Linked DNA regions of Homo sapiens. The protein of the gene in region 3 purifies or fractionates together with the protein of the main gene of each other region. This does not show direct contact. Each region holds a gene or a part of one and is shown on either strand. Other genes may lie near its edges.

Region 1 (3,288 bases), on a different chromosome or scaffold from region 3:
TTTTTTAAATCCCTGTTGGGTTAAGGGTAAAGGAGGTTAAGGAAGCCTATTTCAAATAATGGTAACAGTTTCTGAGAAGTTAAAAAACGCCACTAGGGAGTTGCTAGGGAGCCTTGGCCTGTTTGGGGCATTGAAACAAATGTGGGTGCTTTTAGGGATTATCTCCGTCATCTGTTAAATGAGAAATGGGTTGGACTGGTGATTGATAGTTGAAATCTGTCAACTACTTGTATCAGGTTAGACTACCTGATACACAAAGAAGGGTTGGCCAAGGCGAATTTCTTTGCAATTGATTAATACTTTTTTAAAAAATGAAGTACCAAAGCTGGTATACTATGAGACTTACCTGTAGTCCCTTGAAGTATGGTAGACTTTTTAGTCAATCTACAACCATCTACTCCCCTTTTAAGAAAATCTTCTAAACCCAAGGCATTTTCTTCCAAAAAGATGTTGACTGGTAGTATCTTGAATACTTTAAAAAAACAGACACACCAAAAAACTCCCAAGAAATGGCCTTTTACAAAATGTCAAAGGTTCTTCATACCAACTGCTGGTCATTGGCTGGGGTTTTGAACACTGTATGACAATACTTAAACTACAAAATTTTTTTTACAAATACAGTTTCATCAAAACTTGGGACATACATCAACTTCATTTCTTTTCAGTACCTTAAAAAAAAAACATCAGTTCTGGGACATAACAAAGAAATACTAGGAGAAATGGTATCTGGACAGGAACAGAAATGTCCACAACTGCGAGGGATTTTCTTTTACACTGGCCACAGAGCGTTTATTGACACCACCACTCCTGAAAATTGGGATTTCTTATTAGGTTCCCCTAAAAGTTCCCATGTTGATTACATGTAAATAGTCACATATATACAATGAAGGCAGTTTCTTCAGAGGCAACCAGGGTTTATAGTGCTAGGTAAATGTCATCTCTTTTGTGCTACTGACTCATTGTCAAACGTCTCTGCACTGTTTTCAGCCTCTCCACGTTGCCTCTGTCCTGCTTCTTAGTTCCTTCTTTGTGACAAACCAAAAGAATAAGAGGATTTAGAACAGGACTGCTTTTCCCCTATGATTTAAAAATTCCAATGACTTTCGCCCTTGGGAGAAATTTCCAAGGAAATCTCTCTCGCTCGCTCTCTCCGTTTTCCTTTGTGAGCTTCTGGGGGAGGGTTAGTGGTGACTTTTTGATACGAAAAAATGCATTTTGTGCAGCTGGTGAGGTATAATCCAAAGCAAAAGCAGGGGCAAAAATGGACTTCCTGAAGTTATCTCTGCTCCTGCTGGTTATCCTCCAGAATCTGTCATGTTGACTGAGAGTGCGTGCTTGCTTTCTCAGGCCTCCTGGCCAATACCACAGGTCTGCTGGAAATCACCCACATGGTTTTTCATTGCCTGTGCAGTCAGGTGATGCCTCTATGTTTTTGGAGGTCCACCTCTGTTGTTTCTTAACCTTCCCAGCCTTCCCACAGTTGTCCCCTAAAGAACAAAACAAACTCATCTTAGCACTTAGCTATCATGGTCTTTATCATGACTTCCTAATCGGTCCTATAGCTGAGGAAGCTTTGCTTCAAGGCTGCTGAGAATGAATATTTCTAGGTTACTTAGAACGGGATTGCCACCACCTAGTCACCTCAATTTTTTGTTTACTTATACACCCAATGCCTGGCAAGGATGGCATTTAAGGATCTGGACAGAATAGTGGCTAAGGAGATTGTGATATGTAAAGATTCTGTACCTTAATTCTAGAAGCACCGAAGAAAGGCTTAGGTGACCTGTTACTAATGTCCTATTAAAGCCACACAGGTTTATATGCATATAAAGGAAGAAATGAGTAGACCAGAGGTTGCAAGTGGCAGTTCACCAAGGGCGATAATTTGCCCACATGGTTAACTTAATGTCAAATTAGATGATAATGATAAAGAATTCTCACACATACTTGCATTTTTGGATTTGGTAGACGAATGAGAAAATCTGGCGAACCTCAGCCCATTCCTGCAGGGAGCAAACTGGCCTGCTCCCTTTAGAATAGAGGTGAACTTTACAGGTTGCCAGTCTCTTAGTCCCTGTCAGCCTCCAATGGCACTGGAGTGAGAGTTTGTAGCATGGGCTTTTTGGAAACCATTTAATGAGGCCATCCTACTACTGATGTTGTATATCAGTTAGCACTTTTGTAGCCACAGCCTTCAAGATGCCTAGCAATTTGTAATATTTAAATGCTTCTCAACCTCTAAGTAATAGCTCAAGTTTACCAAGCACAGATTATAGCGAGAACAGCAGTGTACTGGACAAGGCATTAATCTAAAACATGAAATGGATTCAAGTGTTTTCTTAGGGAAAGATGTGCATTAGTACTTCCCCCCCACCCTCATCATGAGAACAAACAAAGGGTGGTATGTAAGAAATGGCATGCAAATAGAATAGCATTGGCAAAATGAAGCGGTCAGAACCAGATTTCTATTTGTAAGCTGGTTCCTCAACTCACAGTGATTTGGAAGAAGGTCTCTTCATTTCTGGCCACTTTCGACGCTGAAACTGCCTAAGTTTTCAAGTGTCAAAGGAGAATGAATGTTAACCATCACCAAGAAAGAAAAAGTCCCCAAAGAACTATACAAAGAAGGTCTCCTAGGTGACACCTATCTTTGGTGGGTGATCCTGGTCTCGGGCAGACCAGAGGGAAGGGCAGTTTCTCAAGATAACAGGTGCAGACTCACAGAGATGAGACTGAAGGATGGGCCAAGATAGGAGAACTTTGTTTAGGCTTTAATAATAAAACGAAATACCTGTATTGCTCATAGCTTCCTCCATCTTTAAGTCCTAAATGAAGGAGAAATGAAAAACAAAACAGGAGCAGATAGTTTAGGCAAAACAACCCCAACACACCAGAAAACCATCTTATGCTTTTTTGTCACAATCCCATGATGCTGATAGTGTTCCCTACTCAGAGTAGACTGAATTATGAGGGGTAGACTGAATTATGAGGGGAACCTGCCCTAAGTCTCCTAGATAGCCTTGTAGATTGCCTAAAATCCAGTGTCACCATGATCAGTTTCAGGACCCTGATGGCTTCATTCAGCGCTGACCTTAGTTATGGTGAGGGAGGTAGATGCAGGCATGAACATCTGTGCTCCAGAGGACAGAAAGCCAAGAGCCCTGACCAAGTGCAGGAGGGAGTTCCCCTTTGGGCTCTGGGGAAGTTTTCCCGAGGATGTGGCAGGATCAAGTGCGTGGGCTCCGGGGTCAGCCCACCTTGTTCACCTTACTCCTCCATAAAATGAGG
Region 2 (3,500 bases), on a different chromosome or scaffold from region 3:
TCATTCTAGTCGATATTTACTGACTGCTTCTGTGTGCTGGGTCTTTGTATGGCAAGTATATTTATTCAGTGGATGTTTATTAACTCAGTATTTTTGAGGTCCTGTGTGAAGGGTTTTCAGTAGTAGATTCTGTCCTCCAACAGACATTTAGCACCTCATAAAACTAAATGTCAGGTCATCCTGTGCTAATGGATATACATGGATTCATCTATTCATGATTATAGATATGCTGGGTGCCAGGCACTGGGTTGGTCACTAAGGATTCTGTGTTGAAGACAGACAGGGTCCCTGTTCTCATGAAGCTTATGTTCAAATGGAGGCACAGGGAATAAACCTGCAACCAAACAAGCACTACAAAGAAAATAAAACAGGGAATGTGATCCAGCCTTTCTGGTTAGAGGTGGGACTGCCAGGGCAGGTTGGGTTGTGAAAGAAGATGACATTTGAGGGTGTCTTGAATGGTGAGATGGAGCCAGCCTTGGGAAAAGCAAGAGCAAAATCTCTGAGGTCAGAGCAAGGGACTAGAAGGGGAGCCAGGAAGCCATGAGTCAGAGGTAGGGGGTTACCAGTGAGGCTGGAGAACTAGGCAAGAGTCCAGATCCTGAAAGGCCTGGTGGGCTGTGCTAAGGAGTTTGGATTTTATCCTAATTGCACTGGGGACCCATGTGACCGTTTGAAGCCAGGAATGATATGATCTGACTCCCATTCTGCATGGGGTCAGAAAGAACATTTTGGTGTTGGCCGGAATTTAAGTTGGAATCTTCAAAATAGAAGATGATGCTGACATTGACAGCTAAGATTTATTAGGAGAAAACCTTTTTATCTTTAGCAGCAACCACATAATAAATCATAATAGTTAACTTTTATTGGGGATATATTATGAGTTGGGTAATGTGCTTGATACATGGTGAAATCAGTTATTTCTATTCTGTCCATTTCACTGGTGAGGAATTGGAGATTCAGAGAGGTGATGTCACTTGCCTTAGGTCACCCAGCCAACAAGTGAGGAAGCAGGGATAGGAACCTGAGTGTTTCTGGCCCCGGAACCCAACCCCCTTATTGTCATGCCTTAGGCTGGGAGGCAGTTCAGCATGCACATTCATGCCAACTCCTGGTGCTTGGGGCCCCACCAACCCCATCTGGCTCTGGGTGTGAAGGTCAGGACTGAGTAGGATGCTCAGTAAACTCACCTGGGCCTTCTTGGCTTTCCTGGCCACAGTAAAAATAGCTCACAATAATCATAGCTATGATATATAGCGTACAGGTGTTTAGGATTTAGGTACTTCTCTGCATATTTACTCATTTAAGCCTTACAACACCTCTGGGAAGTGGGTGCTATTTTTAATCTCCTTTTTTTTTTTTTTTTGAGATGGAGTCTCACTCTGTCACCCAGGCTGGAGTGCAGTGGCACCATCTGGCTCACTGCAACCTCCACCTCCTGGGTTCAAGCGATTCTCCTGCGTCAGCCTCCCGAGTAGCTGGAATTACAGGTGCACATCACCATGCCTGGCTAATTTTTTTTTTTTGTATTTTTAGTAGAGGCGGGCTTTCACCATGTTGGCCAGGCTGGTCTCGAACTCCTGACCTCAGTTGATCCACCCACCTTGGCCTCCCAAAGTGCTGGGATTACAGGCGTGAACCACCAAGTCCAGCCCCTTTTATCCCCATCTTAAAGATGAAAAAAGTGAGGCACAGTGAGGTTAAAAGACTTGTCTGAGGTTAGTCCCACAGAGTGAAATGGCAAGACCAGGACTGGCACAAGGACCACCTGCTCAGAACGCACACTGTTATCCATGTGCTGAGTTCTGTCTACAAAAAGCTGGTGCTCCTGGCTCCAGGTGAGGCCAGCTAGAAGCAGCCAGACCCATGTCAGCTCTGTGGCTCCAGGCATGGGCAGGAGTGGTGCTGCTGTGCCCAGAATTATCCATGTGTGTACAAGGGCCAGTGGGAGCATGGTAGGGAAATGAGGTTTCCTTGTTAACGAAAGGCTTTGAGTGCCAGTGGTTTCCTTAGAAGAGGAGCCGAGAGATCCCTGGGTTTCCCTCATCAGGAAGGGAGTCTTGCTGAGTGCTCTCAAAATAAAAGCAAGCGCCCTACTATAGCAGGTGGCAAGCCTCAGAAAATTGTTCCCTGGAGAGGAGGGGGTGCAGGTGGAACCTCTAACAAGGCTCAAAGAGCATGCCTCTGATATCAATATTAAGCCAAGTCAGGACACTCAGACCCCAGCTATGTCCTGTGAAGTGACCCCCTCCTCTCCCCTCCCTAACAGTGTCTTTGGGGCTTGTGGGCCTCAGACAGCACATTAGGCTGGGCACACACAGGTCTCGGGATGGCATTTCCTTCATGCCATCTCCAGAAGCCTTCCCTGCAGCAAGCAATGCCAGGCAGAGCTTAGACGCTAAGCAGGTTATGTGATTAGTGCCGCTGTTCAGTCAGCAGACAAATTAATCTCCTTAAGTGGTTTAGTGGAGGGTGGAGATGCGTGGGTCTGAAAGCAGGAGGTCTCCGCGGGCTCAGCAGGCATGGGACGCAGGCTCAGCTTCCCCATCACCAGCACTTGCAGTCTCCCAGACCCGCCTTGTCACCCATCGCCGTCCCCGGCCTGCCATGCCCTGGACTCTGTGCCCCTCAATGCTGCGAGCCCTTGCCCTGCTCCGGTCTGCCCGCAGGTGCTCAGAGGTGTTAGCTGTGAGGTTGTAAGATCTGGATCTGGCCTTCCCCGCTGCAAGGAGGGCAGGAATTGTCTTATTCATCTTTGTAGTTCTGAACATGGCAATGGGCCTGGCACATCGTGAGTGATCATTACTTGGGCAAGGAAGGAATGTGCAGCACGTGTTGAGTGCTTAGTTATGAGCCTCAGATCAGAGACTTTCAAGGGCCCCTGTTAAGGTTAGGGAAGAGGAGGAGCTGAATTCGGAGTGGAAAGGGATAGGCAGTGGAAGAACGGGTGCTTAATCTCTCCCTTCTCTGTCCTGAGGGTCCAGGGGCTGTTATTTTGCCCCAGGTGGGTAGGGATGGATCTGTTAGGTTGATGCAAAAGTAATTGCAGTTTTTGCCATTGAAAGTATGGATATCTACAGTGATAGGAACAGTAGTGGCAATAAGGATAGTTGTAATGAGTTTTGCAGAGCACTTTGCCTGCCTGCACCAATCTCTATATTAAGGACTTCCCTTATAATGTCTCGCTGAGTCCTGTCAACAGCCCTATAAGTAGGTATTATTATCCAAGTTTTACAAATGAGGCATCTGAGGCTTAACAGGATTAAGTCAGTATCTCAAGGTCATGAAGCAGTGAGTGGTGGAGCCGGATTTGAATCCAGGCAGTTCGACTCAAGAGCCTGGGATGGTAAAACACAAAATCACATGTGACTCCTTCCATCACCCTAAAGCAAACTTTTTTTTAATTTTTTTTTTTTTTTTTTTTTTTTGCTTTAGCATTTAGAGGTGGTTGGAATTTGGTGGAACCGTCTGTCTTCCATAGAGAGTGTATCAAAATTGGG
Region 3 (2,790 bases):
CGTCTGTGACTCCAGAGTTTAGTATCCACCCACCACATAACATCAACTTTTCCTCAAGTTTCTTGAGGAGAAGCCATTAGGTCCACTTCATGACATGCATGATACACAAGTGAAAGTCATCGCTCCCAGGTAAGAACCCGTAGACACTGTCTCTCTCTCCACCTCTGGGCTGCAGTACGAGGAGCTGCAGGTCACAGCAGGCAGACATGGGGACGACCTGCGCAACACCAAGCAGGAGATTGCTGAGATCAACCGCATGATCCAGAGGCTGAGATCTGAGATCGACCATGTCAAGAAGCAGGTACAGTGAGGTGCAGTGGAGGAAAGAAGCATCATTTTTTGCTAGACCCATCAGGCAGTCATTAGCCATTATTTGATATAATTCCTGAAACGTAAACCAACACTAGGGTGAGGAACATGTGTAGTTCTTGCCCTCAGTGAGAACTCAATAGAGAAGTGAATCCCACCCAAGAGGATGAGCCTCTGAGGCACAAGCAAGGCCAGGTCTCAACAGTCAGGTAAAAAGTTACCACCTCCCCTACAGATGGTCATAATTTTGTATATTTTAATGTGGCATCCAGATGTATTCCTCAAAATCATTCTTGTAGTTTTGAAAACAGCACTCAGTACAAACCGAGCATTCATCTTCCATATGGCTTGTTTTTGGGTCCATTGTAGTGTCTCCCATAAGATGCAACGCACATTCTCATGCGGGTGCTTAATACAAGGGGCATAGGACTTTGTCACTTGACTCCCAGACTAGACAAATATTGCCAAATGGAGAAATACTGGACAGGAAGAGTCAAAGCTCATTCTCTGTCAATTTTGGGTTACAGGACCCTGGTTCACTAAACAAGGGCCAGCCTCCTCCGGAGGAGCAGACAAGAAGTTCCTTCTCTTCCTTTCCCCTCCTAGTGTGCCAGCCTGCAGGCTGCCATTGCTGATGCTGAGCAGCGTGGGGAGATGGCACTCAAGGATGCTAAGAACAAGCTGGAAGGGCTGGAGGATGCCCTGCAGAAGGCCAAGCAGGACCTGGCCCGGCTGCTGAAGGAGTACCAGGAGCTGATGAATGTCAAGCTGGCCCTGGATGTGGAGATCGCCACCTACCGCAAGCTGCTGGAGGGCGAGGAGTGCAGGTAGGTAACTGACGCGACTTCCTCCAACAGCTGAGTCCATCTTCAAGGTTCCTGGCACTGAGCACAATTCTAGGGTGCACTGCTCATGGCCGTAATTGCTCTTCTTGAGAGAAAACTAAAAGAGCAGTTTCCCATGGACTCTTCCACCCACCGAGGCTGCCCACACTGGTCCAGGGAAGGAAGAGCTCTCTGAGGTCTCACCCTCCCTGTGTTCCTCTCCACAGGCTGAATGGCGAAGGCGTTGGACAAGTCAACGTCTGTAAGTACCTTTGCTTGCCTTCCTCCCCTGCCCTCGCACTCTTCTGACTGGGCTCAGGCCGGCAGGATGAGCTCACCGTGGCTTCTTGTGTCCTTGTCCCCTCCCCACCACAGCTGTAGTACAGTCCACCATCTCCAGTGGCTATGGCGGTGCCAGCGGTGTCGGCAGTGGCTTAGGCCTGGGTGGAGGAAGCAGCTACTCCTATGGCAGTGGTCTTGGCATTGGAGGTGGCTTCAGTTCCAGCAGTGGCAGAGCCATTGGGGGTGGCCTCAGCTCTGTTGGAGGCGGCAGTTCCACCATCAAGTACACCACCACCTCCTCCTCCAGCAGGAAGAGCTACAAGCACTAAAGTGCTGCCTCCAGCTCTCGGTCCCACAGTCCTCAGGCCCTTCTCTGGCTGCAGAGCCGTCTCCTCAGGTTGCCTATCCTCTCCTGGCCTCTAGTCTTCCCTGCTCTCCGAGGTAGAGCTGGGTATGGATGCTTAGTGCCCTCACTTCTCTCTGTCTATACCTGCCCCATCTGAGCACCCATTGCTCACCATCAGATCAACCTTTGATTTTACATCATAATGTATTCACCAATGGAGCTTCACTTTGTTACTAAATTATTAATTTCTTGCCTCCAAAATTGTTCTCTCTGAGGCTGAGCATTATAAGAAAATGATCTCTGTTCCTTTTCATTACTGAAAATCGCCTGGGGCTTATTTCAGAACAACTTCCACTTATTTTCCATTGGCCCCCAAACTCCCTAAGTTAAAAGTATTGTGAACCCCCGCCCCGCAGTATGCATGGAAGCACAAGTGACTAGTCGTATGATGTACACAGTCTTTCTCCCTGTGATGATTTCTCTGCTCTTTGCTCTTTGTAATTTCTAAATAAAGCAGGTTTTAGAATAATGCATGGTACCAATATTTCTTCAGCTTTTTCAGTTGACAAACGCCTTTTTATTTTTAACTGATAATCCATATCCCCATGTGCTTAAACCTTCTCCTTTAGAGAGGTTCGATTAACAGCACTATGGCATCCTGATATTCAGGTCTCTTCTCAGATTAGATTCCTCCTAAATGTTTGGCAAGTGGAGCGGGAGGCACCTGGTCCACCATGATTGTCCACTCTGGTTTTACTGTATGCAGGAACTGGCAGCCCAGTCCCTCAGACTTGGTCTCTAAGACTACTCCTCCTTATACACCGGTGCTTGGCCTAAATGCCCAGTGGAGAAACATTTTTGGCCAAATAGAGTAAAAGTCATTTGGGAAGAAAATAAGATACTTTATTTATACTTAGAATTGCCTCATGACTAAGAAAATTATTTGACAAGGTGTATCAACAGCAATCAATATGTGCCTACTTAGAATTGGACTTACACCTCTGGAAATGTATCCTGAGGAGACCGTGC

What was found.
Region 1: the proteins of KRT6C (region 3) and SULF2 purify together in Homo sapiens (co-immunoprecipitation; one large-scale study listed by IntAct). This does not show direct contact.
Region 2: the proteins of KRT6C (region 3) and WWC1 purify together in Homo sapiens (co-immunoprecipitation; one large-scale study listed by IntAct). This does not show direct contact.

The regions. Positions count from the first base shown.
Region 1 is NC_000020.11:47,656,906-47,660,193, forward strand, and holds the end of SULF2 (extracellular sulfatase Sulf-2 isoform a precursor), read right to left. Parts: intron 2,826-3,288; coding exon 2,792-2,825; intron 2,548-2,791; coding exon 2,494-2,547; intron 1,488-2,493; coding exon 1,457-1,487; 3' UTR 501-1,456; downstream 1-500. UniProt on the Homo sapiens protein: Exhibits arylsulfatase activity and highly specific endoglucosamine-6-sulfatase activity. It can remove sulfate from the C-6 position of glucosamine within specific subregions of intact heparin.
Region 2 is NC_000005.10:168,424,145-168,427,644, forward strand, and holds part of WWC1 (protein KIBRA), read left to right. Parts: intron 1-3,500. UniProt on the Homo sapiens protein: Regulator of the Hippo signaling pathway, also known as the Salvador-Warts-Hippo (SWH) pathway.
Region 3 is NC_000012.12:52,468,016-52,470,805, reverse strand, and holds the end of KRT6C (keratin, type II cytoskeletal 6C), read left to right. Parts: intron 1-175; coding exon 176-301; intron 302-915; coding exon 916-1,136; intron 1,137-1,360; coding exon 1,361-1,395; intron 1,396-1,508; coding exon 1,509-1,744; 3' UTR 1,745-2,290; downstream 2,291-2,790.